Regions from separate parts of the Homo sapiens genome. Here region 2 is linked to region 1. Evidence: fine-mapped expression QTL. A gene starts in region 1. The other region holds a variant in brackets. All regions are shown on one strand. Distances are from middle to middle. Region 1 holds the start of STMP1 (short transmembrane mitochondrial protein 1). Region 2 overlaps NUP205 (nucleoporin 205).

Region 1 (5,376 bases):
ATAATCCAACACTTTGAGAGACTGAGGTGGGAGGATTGCTTCAGCCTGGGAGTTCAAGACCAGCCTGGGCAATATAGTGAGACCCTATCTCCACTATTAAAAATAGTAATAATAAAGGGGAAAAACTGCAGTAAAAGAAAAGGGGAAAATCACAGGAACAAGGTCTCTTCAAGATAGGGACAAAGGGAGAATATTTTAATCTGAGGAGGAATATGAATAATGGAAGGACGTTATCACCAACACAAGCAAGTGCAGTGGTTTTCAAACTGTCCACAAATCACAACTGTAGGAGAAACATCTTAGACGGTTCCAAAATGTGTAATGACAACGCACTGCTTAACTTGTGACTGTTTCATCACTTCTAAACCTTTCCTATCACCTACCCTTCTGAGAGAAGCTAATCCCCACTTGAGAAGAAACTCAATCAGGGTTCAAATGAACCCTGCAAAAGAAAAACTGAACACTATCTGAATCCTTGTTGAGTGCTCCTGTTTTTAAGTTCTTTAATGTGTTAACTCATTTTTAATCCTCACAACAAAACTGTGAGGTGGGTTTGCATTTTCAGATGTGGAAATGGGAGCACAGAAAATTTCAATAGCCCACCCACGCTACCACAGCTTGAAAATGATGGGAGGCAGAGTTCAAACTGAGAAGTCTGACTCTGAAGTTTAATCTCTTAAACACTAGAACATGATGGTCATTTTTTAATAGATGAAATGACTGCACACAAAGAGAAATACTTGCTCAACTTTAGAGTCAGTGGCTCATTTGACAGAGGTGGAATCAATGTGAAAAGTAATGCTATCCACTTATTTAAAAAAAAAAGCAATGAGGTGGAAGACCAGAGGGTGAGAGAACATCAGTGTTCAGTTACTTCTGAGCTAGGAATATAATTGACAGCTTTAGCATCTCTCCTTAAATACTGAGAATTCTGAATTCTCAAATCAGAATCTGACCAGGCACAGTGGTGGCTCATGCCTGTAATCCCAACACTGTGGGAGGCCTAGGCAAGACCTGTCTCTACAAAAAAAAAATTTTAAAATTAGTCACGGGTGGTAGTGCGGGCCTGTAGTCCTAGCTACTACTAAAGAGGCTGAGGTGGGAAGGCTGCTTGAGGCCAGGAATTAAAGACTGCACTGAGCCATGATTGTGCCACTGGACTCTAGCCTAGGTGACAAAGAGAAACCTTGTCTCAAAAAAAAAAAAAAAAAAAAAAAATTAACACACAGTAAAAGTTTATTGCAAAACCAAATAGACTCATTCTGCAAAACCACTTAGAAAGTTAACTGTAATTGAATCATGTCCTCTCAGTTTATCAATGAGCAACAGATATAGTAAGCAGCTCAATTACATCATTCTATACTCTGGAGCTAAGTGATACCGCTTTTAATCTAGTGTTTACTACAAGAAAATGACTGTCATTATTCTGAACTCCTAAACTAACATCTAGTTAGGACACTACAGAAACTCCTAGAGGCAAAGGAGCAGCCCTGTCTTAGCTGGGCAGATTAAGGACACTCTTTTGACTAATTGGATTTAACAATCCATTACCATCTTTCAAAAGGACAAAAGGGGTGCATTTTGTGTTTTAATCTCTTTGATAAAGATACAGCATTTGGGGCCGGGCGCGGAGGCTCACGCCTGTAATCCCAGCACTTTGGGAGGCTGAGGCAGGCAGATCCCGAGGTCAGGAGATCGAGACCATCCCGGCCAACGGGGTGAAACCCCGTCTCTACTAAAAATACAAAAATTAACTGGGCCTGCTGGCGCGCACCAGCTACTCGGGAGGCTGAGGCAGGAGAATCGCTTAAACCCAGGAAGCGGAGGCTGCAGTGAGCCGAGATCGCACTACTGCACTCCAGCCTGGCGACAGAGCGGGACTCCGTTAAAACAAACAACAAAAAAAGATACAGCATTTGAGCCGGGAGCAGTGGCTCACGCCTGTAATCCCAGCACTTTCGTAGGCTGAGGTGGGTTGATCACTTGAGGTCAGGAGTTCGAGACCAGCCTGGCCAACTTGGTGAAACCCGTCTCTACTAAAAATACAAAAATTAGCTGAGCATCCTGGTGCGCGCCTGTAATCCCAGCTACTCCGGAGGCCGAGGAGGGAGAATCGGTTGAACCCGGGAGGCGGAGGTTCCAGTGAGCCCAGATTGCGCCACTGCACTCCAGCCTGACGACACAGCGAGACTCCGTCTCAAAAAAAATAAAAAATAAAAAAAAATAGAGGTTGAAAGCATCAAGTTTTGAATGCACAATAGCTTGGCAGAAAAACTTTCACTTGAAAATTTGATGAGCAACTCCTGGAACCTTCACCAAGCAATTTTTGAAATATACCGAGTTTTGCCAGAAAACTCGTTTTTAACTCAAATAAGGAGCCAAGAGAAATAGTCTGCTTACTCATGCTTACACATTTTGGGAAAAATTACTTGTATACCAGTGTCTGACTCATTCCTCCAACTCTGAAAGGTCTGATGAGGACTTAGCCTCTCGGACTTCGTGAGGTGGCTAATTTACGGTTTATTCCTGGCCTTCCTACCTCCTCAGAAAAGCCAACTAGCAGGGCTCCACAGCAGGGACCGGCCGGCGACCATGTAATGGAACAGGAGCGCAGAAAGAAAGGGGGGCGGACTACGAAAAGTCATCAAGGACCACACAAGCTTTAATACAAAGATTGCACAATGAGCGCGGGGCGCGGCACACAATAAGAAGCTCTGGAAACGCACACTCTCTGACACCTCAAAGTTTTAGGGACTTGGATGGCTGCAGAAAAATATTGGCAAAGGGATTTTCTGGGGAGGCAGGAAGAAAACGGCCGCCCTGCGAGGCGACGACCAGGCGCGGGGGACGAAGGGACCGCTGGACCCACGCCCAGGCCGGGTCGGCGGGGTCGGCAATCCTCAAGGGGGAAATGGGGTCCGAGGCACGCCCCAGGCAGCGGGCCCCGCTCTTCGGCAGCTCCACTCACCAGGAACTGGAGCATGATGTCGGTGGGGAGGGCGAGGAGGGCGCGAAGGACTGCAGCAGCTCCGCGGGCCGGTCCGAGCCTACCTCCCCATGCGCGGGGGGGGCGGAACCCCTCGTCGACTTCCGGGTCACGCCACGCCCCGCCCCGCTCCTCCCACTCAGCCCGCGCCCGGAAACGACTTGCAGTGTCGCAGCGCCCAGGTTCCCCCTGGCGGAGCGCGTTGGCCTCACCGCCTGAACCGGCGGGGCAGCGAGCGCGCGACAGGACTTGCGAAGAGCAAGTCCCGAGCCTGGCTGGGCATCCTTGAGCATCCCGCCTCTGTAAACCTGGGCCGAGGCCCAGGAATCTATATTATTCTCAGCACGCGGACTATTCTGATACACAGCCCAGTTTAGGGCTCTCTAACCTAGAAGGACGGCATGAGCAGCGGGTCCCATCCCTAGGTTCGCAGCTGAATCGTGGGGGCTTTTGCAGCATCCTCTACTTGGGCCCAGCTGGACTTTGCGGGGAGGAAAGGAGGCTTGTAGCTCTCAAAGCTCCGCAGGTGTGCTGTGTAATCAGCGTTGTGTAATCAGGTGTTGTGTAATCAAGGTAGAGGCTGGGTACCGTATGGGGCCCATGCTGCCGTGTGCCGCACGCCAGTCACTGAGATGATGAGTTTTGTAGCAGAGAAAAGGTTTATTCACCAGGCAGCCAGCCGAGGAGACGGGAGAACAGATCTCAAATCTGCCTCCCCAAAGATGGGTTTTAGGGATATTTATGGGATAGAGGAGCAGGGTGGTCTGAGGTGTGGGGAAAGGCGGTTGAAGGTAAGGAAAAGTTTGGCAATGGGTTATCTGCGCGAGGTAGTCAAGCTTCATGGCTCTTTATAGGATACATGGTCACAAAATGACATCCTTAGCATGATCTGAGTGTGGAGGTTTTGGCCCTCTAATGTCAGAAGGACACCCATCGGGCTTTCATGCAGGCCCAGTTGAGAGGTTGGTGGTTTAAACTGTACAAGAACTGACCCCAACTTCCTGAAAAACAAGAAACCTTTATCAAGCAACCCAGATGTCAGAGATGTTATCCATAAGGAAGATAGTGGGAGCTTAGATATATATTGTTTAGCTCTGTGACTTTAGCTATGTGGGTTTTTTAATCCACTAAAAGCAGGTGACTAAAAACAAGTGAGAGAAGTTGCATTTGGCAGGCCTCATCAGGTTGGCTCTCAGTTTCACTGGCCTAGCTGGGTTTCTTGCCTGGGATGGCCATAGGTCCTGTTGACAATTTGTATCATCGCCACAAAGAGTCTGTTCTGTCAGTCTTCCGGTCTGTGTATGTGTGTGTTTTTTTCTCTCTTTCTCTTTTAAAGAATTTATTTTAAGCCTATTATACCACACAGTATGTTTTAAACACTAACTCCCTAATAAGATATATAACTCCCTAATAAGATAAAGCAAAGACAAAAAAAGTTCATCTTATTAGAAACAAGATACACCATCCCTTATTGTCTTCAAAAATTATTGCACTTTAATTTTCATAATTTGACAAAGCATTCATGAAACAATCTGCAGACTAGTTTTAACAGACAAATAACACCTGTAAGCAGACATGACTGTCCTAAATTATTAGGTACGAATTTTACAAACTTTTTTTTTTTTTTGAGACGGAGTCTCGCTCTGTCACCCAGGCTGGAGTGCAGTGGCGCAGTCTCGGCTCACTGCAAGCTCCGCCTCCCGGGTTCACGCCATTCTCCTGCCTCAGCCTCCCGAGTAGCTGGGACTACAGGCGCCCGCCACCACGCCCGGCTAATTTTCTGTATTTTTAGTAGAGACGAGGTTTCAACGTGTTAGCCAGGATGGTCTCGATCTCCTGACCTTGTGATCCGCCCGCCTCGGCCTCCCAAAGTGCTGGGATTACAGGCGTGAGCCACCACGCCTGGCCCAAACTTTACTTATATTAGTGGTAACGGTGGAGCTGGAGAGTATCACGCCTTCTCCAAGCTGCCCAGCAAGAACCATCAATAGTGTGGTGGAACTTATGGCACTTTCCAAGGCCACAGCTCCTTTGGCCTGCAGATGTCAGCCCACACATCTCCCTCTGCTTGTGGACTGGTTTGGTGATCGACTGGGTGTCAGGATTTCTTCTGATAACTTCATAGAATGGATCAATGAGGATAACCTCAAAAAATCTGTATGTGGAATCTTCACCAACCCAGTAAGAATTCAGGACTCTTAGAGCCCCACAGTTGTGTCCAACTCGCTCCTCTGCAATGGACTGAAGGCTTCGAGCAAACTTCAGCTGGTTAACACCATGATGGACAGGCTTGCCATAAGTTGCACCCTTAGGAATTGGGCATTTTTGACCACCATGGTGAACATGAATCCTATATATAATGTAACCTTGCTTGGCCTTGTAGCCCAGCT
Region 2 (5,376 bases), 52 kb after region 1:
AATAACAATAAACTGAATAAAAATTTAACAAAAAAGAATAGATAAGAGAAAAAGTTCTTATATTAAATATAAGAAAAAGTTGCTAGCTCTAATATATATAAAGATCTCCATTACAGATATGAATAACATAAAGATCTAAGTACCCCAGATGGTAAAAGTAGCCCATATGGTAAAAGACATTTTATATGAGAAAAATAAAAATAGCCCATAATAAAAAATGTCCATCTGTTTTCAGGAATTAAAAAAAAAAATCAAGATGATAATAGGTAGGTATCATATTATAAATCAGCAAATTTTTTTTTTTTTTGAGTCAGGGTCTCACTCTGTCACCCAGGTTGGAGTACAGTGGTGCAATCACAGCTCACTGCAGCCTCAACCTCCTGGGCTAAAGTGATCCTCCCAGCTCAGCCTTCTGAGTAGCTGGGACTACAGTAATTGCATGCCACCATGCGTGGCTAATATGAACATTTATTAGATGCTTTCCATGTACCAGGCACTTTAAGACATGTTTATTCTGAGCACTATTAATACCTAGTATAATTGTTATGACTACTTGTGAATTAAAATCTAAAGCCAAAACTCTTGATAGTCTTTGACCCAACACAGTCAATCCTCATTATTTACAGATTCCATATTTGCAAATTCACCTAACATGCTAAAATTTATTTAAAATCCCAAAATCAATACTTGCAGTGCTTCCATGGTCCTTCATGCGCGGGAGAACAGCTACAAACTGCAGTCACCGAACTCTCATGCTCTCTAATGGAGCAATGCTTTTCCTGTTCCAGCTATCATACTATAAAAAGGGTTCTTTAAATGGTCTATTTAGTGCCACGTTTTTTGCATTTTTGTGCTTTTTGTTGATTTTGCTGTTTAAAACAGCCCCCAAGCATAGTGCTGAAATGCTGCCTTGTCCCTAAGTGCAAAAAGGCTGTGATATGCCTTTAAGATAAAATACTACATTAGATAAATTTCATTCAGGCTGAGTTATAGTGCTGTTGGCTATGAGTTTAATGTTAATGAATCAACTACATTAAGTAAGGTGTCTTTAAACAGAAACACACATAAAACATGATTATGAATTCATCAGTTGACAAGAATGTTGGAACCAGACACTTGCAGGAATCCTAGCCTGTATTTTCCATAGGGGCAATGAATTCACCAATTCAGTTTTCACAATGACTTTATAAAACACAACTACTGTGAATAACGAGAACTGACTATAAACCCTTGTCTGGAAATATATTCTGTTTTTTTTTCTTCTGTTTTTTTTGAGATGCAGTTTCATTCTGTCGCTCAGGCTGGAGTGCAGTGGCGCGATCTCGGCTCACTGCAAGCTCCACGTCCCGGGTTCATGCCATTCTCCCGCCTCAGCCTCCTGAGTAGCTGGGACTACAGGTGCCCACCACCATACCCGGCTAATATTTTGTTTTTGTATTTTTAGTAGAGACGGGGTTTCACCGTGTTAGCCAGGATGGTCTTGATCTCCTGACCTCATGATCCACCCGCCTCAGCCTCCCAAAGTGCTGGGATTACAGGTGTGACCCACAGTGCCCGCCTGGAAATATATTCTTAAGAAAAATACAAAACAACCAAAGGTAATTTATTTATTTACAACTGCCACCTCCCAGGTTCAAGCGATTCTCCTGCCTCAGCCTCCCAAGTACCTGGGATTAACAGGCACATGGCATAACGCCTGGCTAATTTTTGTTTTTTTGTTCGCTACAGCAGAGTAAAAAAAAAACTGGAAACAACCTGAATGTAATTTACATTGTTGCAGCACAGAAAGTTTATACAGAGAGGAGTAAAAAAGACACAAAATTTCATGTATACTGAATACAACTATAAACAATGTATATACACAAAGAGAAAGAAGACAAGGAAAAGAGTAAAAAGCTCTGCTACAGATGTACATTGACCTTTTAAACAGTTTTGATACCATTTTGATATTCTATAAACAAACAAAAACTTAAGCTAATACCGAACTTCTCAAAACAAAATCAGTTAGGTCTATTACTGGGGGAGTTAAGAAAACACAAGAAGATACTCTAACAAGTGGAAGAAATAATACTATCAGAAGAGAACTGCCAGGCAGTGACTCACGCATGTAATCCCAGCACTTTGGGAGGCCAAGGTGGACGGATCACCTGAGGTCAGGAGTTTGAGACCACCCTGGCCAACATGGTGAAACCCCGTCTCCACTAAAAATACAAAAATTATCCAGGCGTGGTGGCCCAGGGACGCCTGTAATCCCAGCTACTTGGGAGACTGAGGCACGAGAATTGCTTGAACCTGGGAGATGGAGGTTGCAGTGAGCCGAGACCACACCACTGCACTCCAGGCAAGGCGACAGAGCAAGACTCTGTCCCCCACCCAAAAAAAAAAAAAAAAGAAGAGAAGGACACAAAAAGTGAGTTCAAAA[A/T]GCACTGAAAGCCATTTTATTAAGATGTGGGCTATATCCTTCCTGGTTTCCAAGACCAGGGACCAGGTAGAAGAAATCTCCGTTCTTAAAGAAAAGAGGGCAAAGGCACCAGGCCTCAACTTCTTCACCCAGAAGCCCTTGTGTTGCAGGACAAGGAAGGTATCAGTAAGGACCATTTCCCTTTGCTACAATCAGATTTATTTAAACTAACAAGCTCTTCTTACTTAGAGGTTTAAATTTTTTTCTGAAGCAGGGTGAAGTACAAACATATAGGTATAGGGAGTATATTTAGTTATAAATGGAGCAGTGCTTTCTGTAAAAATGCAGATCCTGACTCATCAGGTCTAAAGTGGGGCCTCAGATTCTGCACTAATAAGCTCCTAGGAGATAATGCTGATGATACTGGTCCCTGGGCCATATTTGAGTAGCAAGGTCACAGAGCATATGTTATGGCCGGGCACGGTGGCTCACGCCTGTAATCTCAGCACTTTGGGAGGCCAAGGCGGGTGGATCACCTAAGGTCAGGAGTTTGAGACCAGCCTGGACAACATGGTGAAGCCCCCTCTCTACTAAAAATACAAAATTAGCCGGGTGTGATGGCACATGCCTGTAATCCCTGCTACTTGGGAGGCTGAGGCAGGAGAATCGCTTGAACCCGGGAGGTGGAGGTTGCGGTGAGCTGAGATCGTGCCACTGCACTCCACCTGGGCAATAGAGTGAGACTCCATCTCAAAAAACAGTAACAACGACAACAGAGAGTATGTTATAAACTGGTAAACTGCTGGTATGGACATGTTTTCCTTGGCTAGTAGAGTGTTCTAAAAGTTAGAACAACTTTAACAAAAATTCAGATTTCCAAATTCTTTTAAAAATGAATAAATAAAAATAAAAATTCAGACAATCTGGCCCAACAAATCCTGCACTCTGGCATGGTAAAATAAGCCAGGGATGAGTAGGAAGGCACATGCTCTCCAGTCTGCCAGATTCTCCTTTCCTCCCACTCCCTTAACTGGACCCTGGCTTCATTCATTTACTTCACCTGCCATTAGCCTAGGTGTTAAGCTTATCAGTTGTTTCTACTTATATATCAAATTCTGTAAATCTGTGCTAATATGTACATCAAATTTGTTCCCCCATAAGGAAGAATTAATTTTGATTTACAGGAAAACCTAGCTATAGTACTTACAGTGAAGGGATGTTTGGACAGCCGGAGGACAGAAAAGATAGTAAAGAATTACAAAAAGAAAAGCAGGAGATTAACAAAGAAAAATATCCATGCCAGTAACACTAAGAGGTTAGTGATGCATTTCTTTTTTTTTTTTTGAGATGGGGTCTCGCTCTGTTGCCCAGGCTGGAGTGCAGTGGTGCGATCTCGGCTCACTGCAAGCTCCGCCTCCCAAGTTCACGCCATTCTCCTGCCTCAGCTTCCCAAGTAGCTGGGACTACAGGCACACACCACCATGCCCGGATAATTTTTGTATTTTTTTTTTTCTGGGACAGAGTTTCGCTCTGTCGCCTAGGCTGGAGTGCAGTGGCGCGATCTCGGCTCACTGCAAGCTCCACCTCCCGGGTTCACGCCATTCTCCTGCCTCAGCCTCCCGAGTAGCTGGGACCACAGGTGCCAGCCACCATGCCCGGCTAATTTTTTGTATTTTTAGTAGAGATGGGGTTTCATTGTGTTAGTCAGGATGAATTTTTGTATTTTTAGTAGAGATGGGGTTTCACCATGTTCACCAGGATGGTCTTGATCTCCTGATCTCATGACCCACCATTTCTTATCCTAAAAATGTAAATTTAGGGTAACACTTAAATTGAGAAATTAGTCACAGCTTATAAAGCCTGGTTCTTTTTTTTTTTTTTTTTTTTGAGACGGAGTTTTGCTCTTGTTGCCCAGGCTGGAGTACAGTGGCACGATCTAGGTTCACTGCAACCTCTGCCTCCCGGGTAGAAGCAATTCTCCTGCCTCAGCCTCCTGAGGAGCTAGGATTACAGGCGTCCACAACCAGGCCCAGCTAATTTTTTTTGTATTTTTAGTAGAGATGGGGTTCCACCATGTTGGCCAGGCTGGTCTCTAACTCCTAACCTCAGGTGATCTGCTCACCTTAGCCTCCCAAAGTGCTGGGATTAAAGGCGTGAGTCACTGCACGCGGCCAAGCCTAGTTTTTAAAACACTTATAAAATGAATAAAACAATAAACAAAAGTGAACAAGCGAAATTATAAATTATCATTATAGTTTACTTATGTATTTATTTTTATTTTTTTTGAGACAGAGTCTCACTTTGCCACCCAGCTGGAGTGCAGTGGCATGATCTTGGCTCACTGCAACCTCTACCTCCTGGGTTCAAGCAATTCTCATGCCCCAGCCTCCCAAGTAGCTGGGATTACAGGCACGTGCCACCACGCCCAGCTAATTTTTGTATTTTCAGCAGAGACAAGGTTTTGCCATGTTTCCCCGGCTGGTCTCCAACTCCTGGCCTCAAGTGATCCAGACCACCTCAGCCTCCCAAAGTGCTGGGGTTATGGGCGTGAGCCACCATGCCCAGGCCCAGCCCTCATTATAGTTTAAATGTTAATCTGACATTCTACCACTTAACATAGTTGTATACAGGACTTCTTAATTTATTTGGTTATTAAAAAGTGCTTTCTGGCCAGGCGCGGTGGCTCATGCCTATAATCCCAGCACTTTGGGAGACCGAGGCAGGTGGATCACAAAGTCAAGAGATTGAGACCATCCTGGCCAACATGATGAAACCCTGTCTCTACTAAAAATACAAAAATTAGCTGGGCATGGTGGGCACGCCTGTAGTCCCAGCTACTTGGGAGGCTGAGGCAGGAGAATCGCTTGAGCCTGGGAGGTGGAGGTTGCAGTGTGCCACAATCACGCCACTGCACTCCAGCCTGGGCAACAGAGCGAGACTCCATATTAAAAAAAAAAAAAAAAAAAGTGCTTTCC

Evidence for each region. PIP is the estimated chance that this variant, and not a neighbour inherited with it, causes the effect.
Region 2: its variant is the best candidate, but not a certain one, in a credible set for the expression of STMP1 in subcutaneous fat (GTEx, PIP 0.57).

The regions. Positions count from the first base shown.
Region 1 is chr7:135,660,187-135,665,562 of GRCh38, reverse strand. It overlaps STMP1 (short transmembrane mitochondrial protein 1), which reads right to left and starts at 3,049. Exons shown (of 3, transcript NM_001130929.2): 1 at 2,969-3,049. The coding sequence starts at 2,983. It also overlaps the pseudogene RPL15P11. RefSeq lists silencers at 188-482, 2,955-3,174 and enhancers at 1,266-1,790, 1,791-2,315.
Region 2 is chr7:135,608,017-135,613,392 of GRCh38, reverse strand. All of the region lies in intron 22 of NUP205 (nucleoporin 205), which reads right to left. Among named protein-coding and RNA genes, the nearest start is that of STMP1, 52 kb to the left of the region's middle. The variant A/T (reference allele first, on the strand shown) is at 2,423.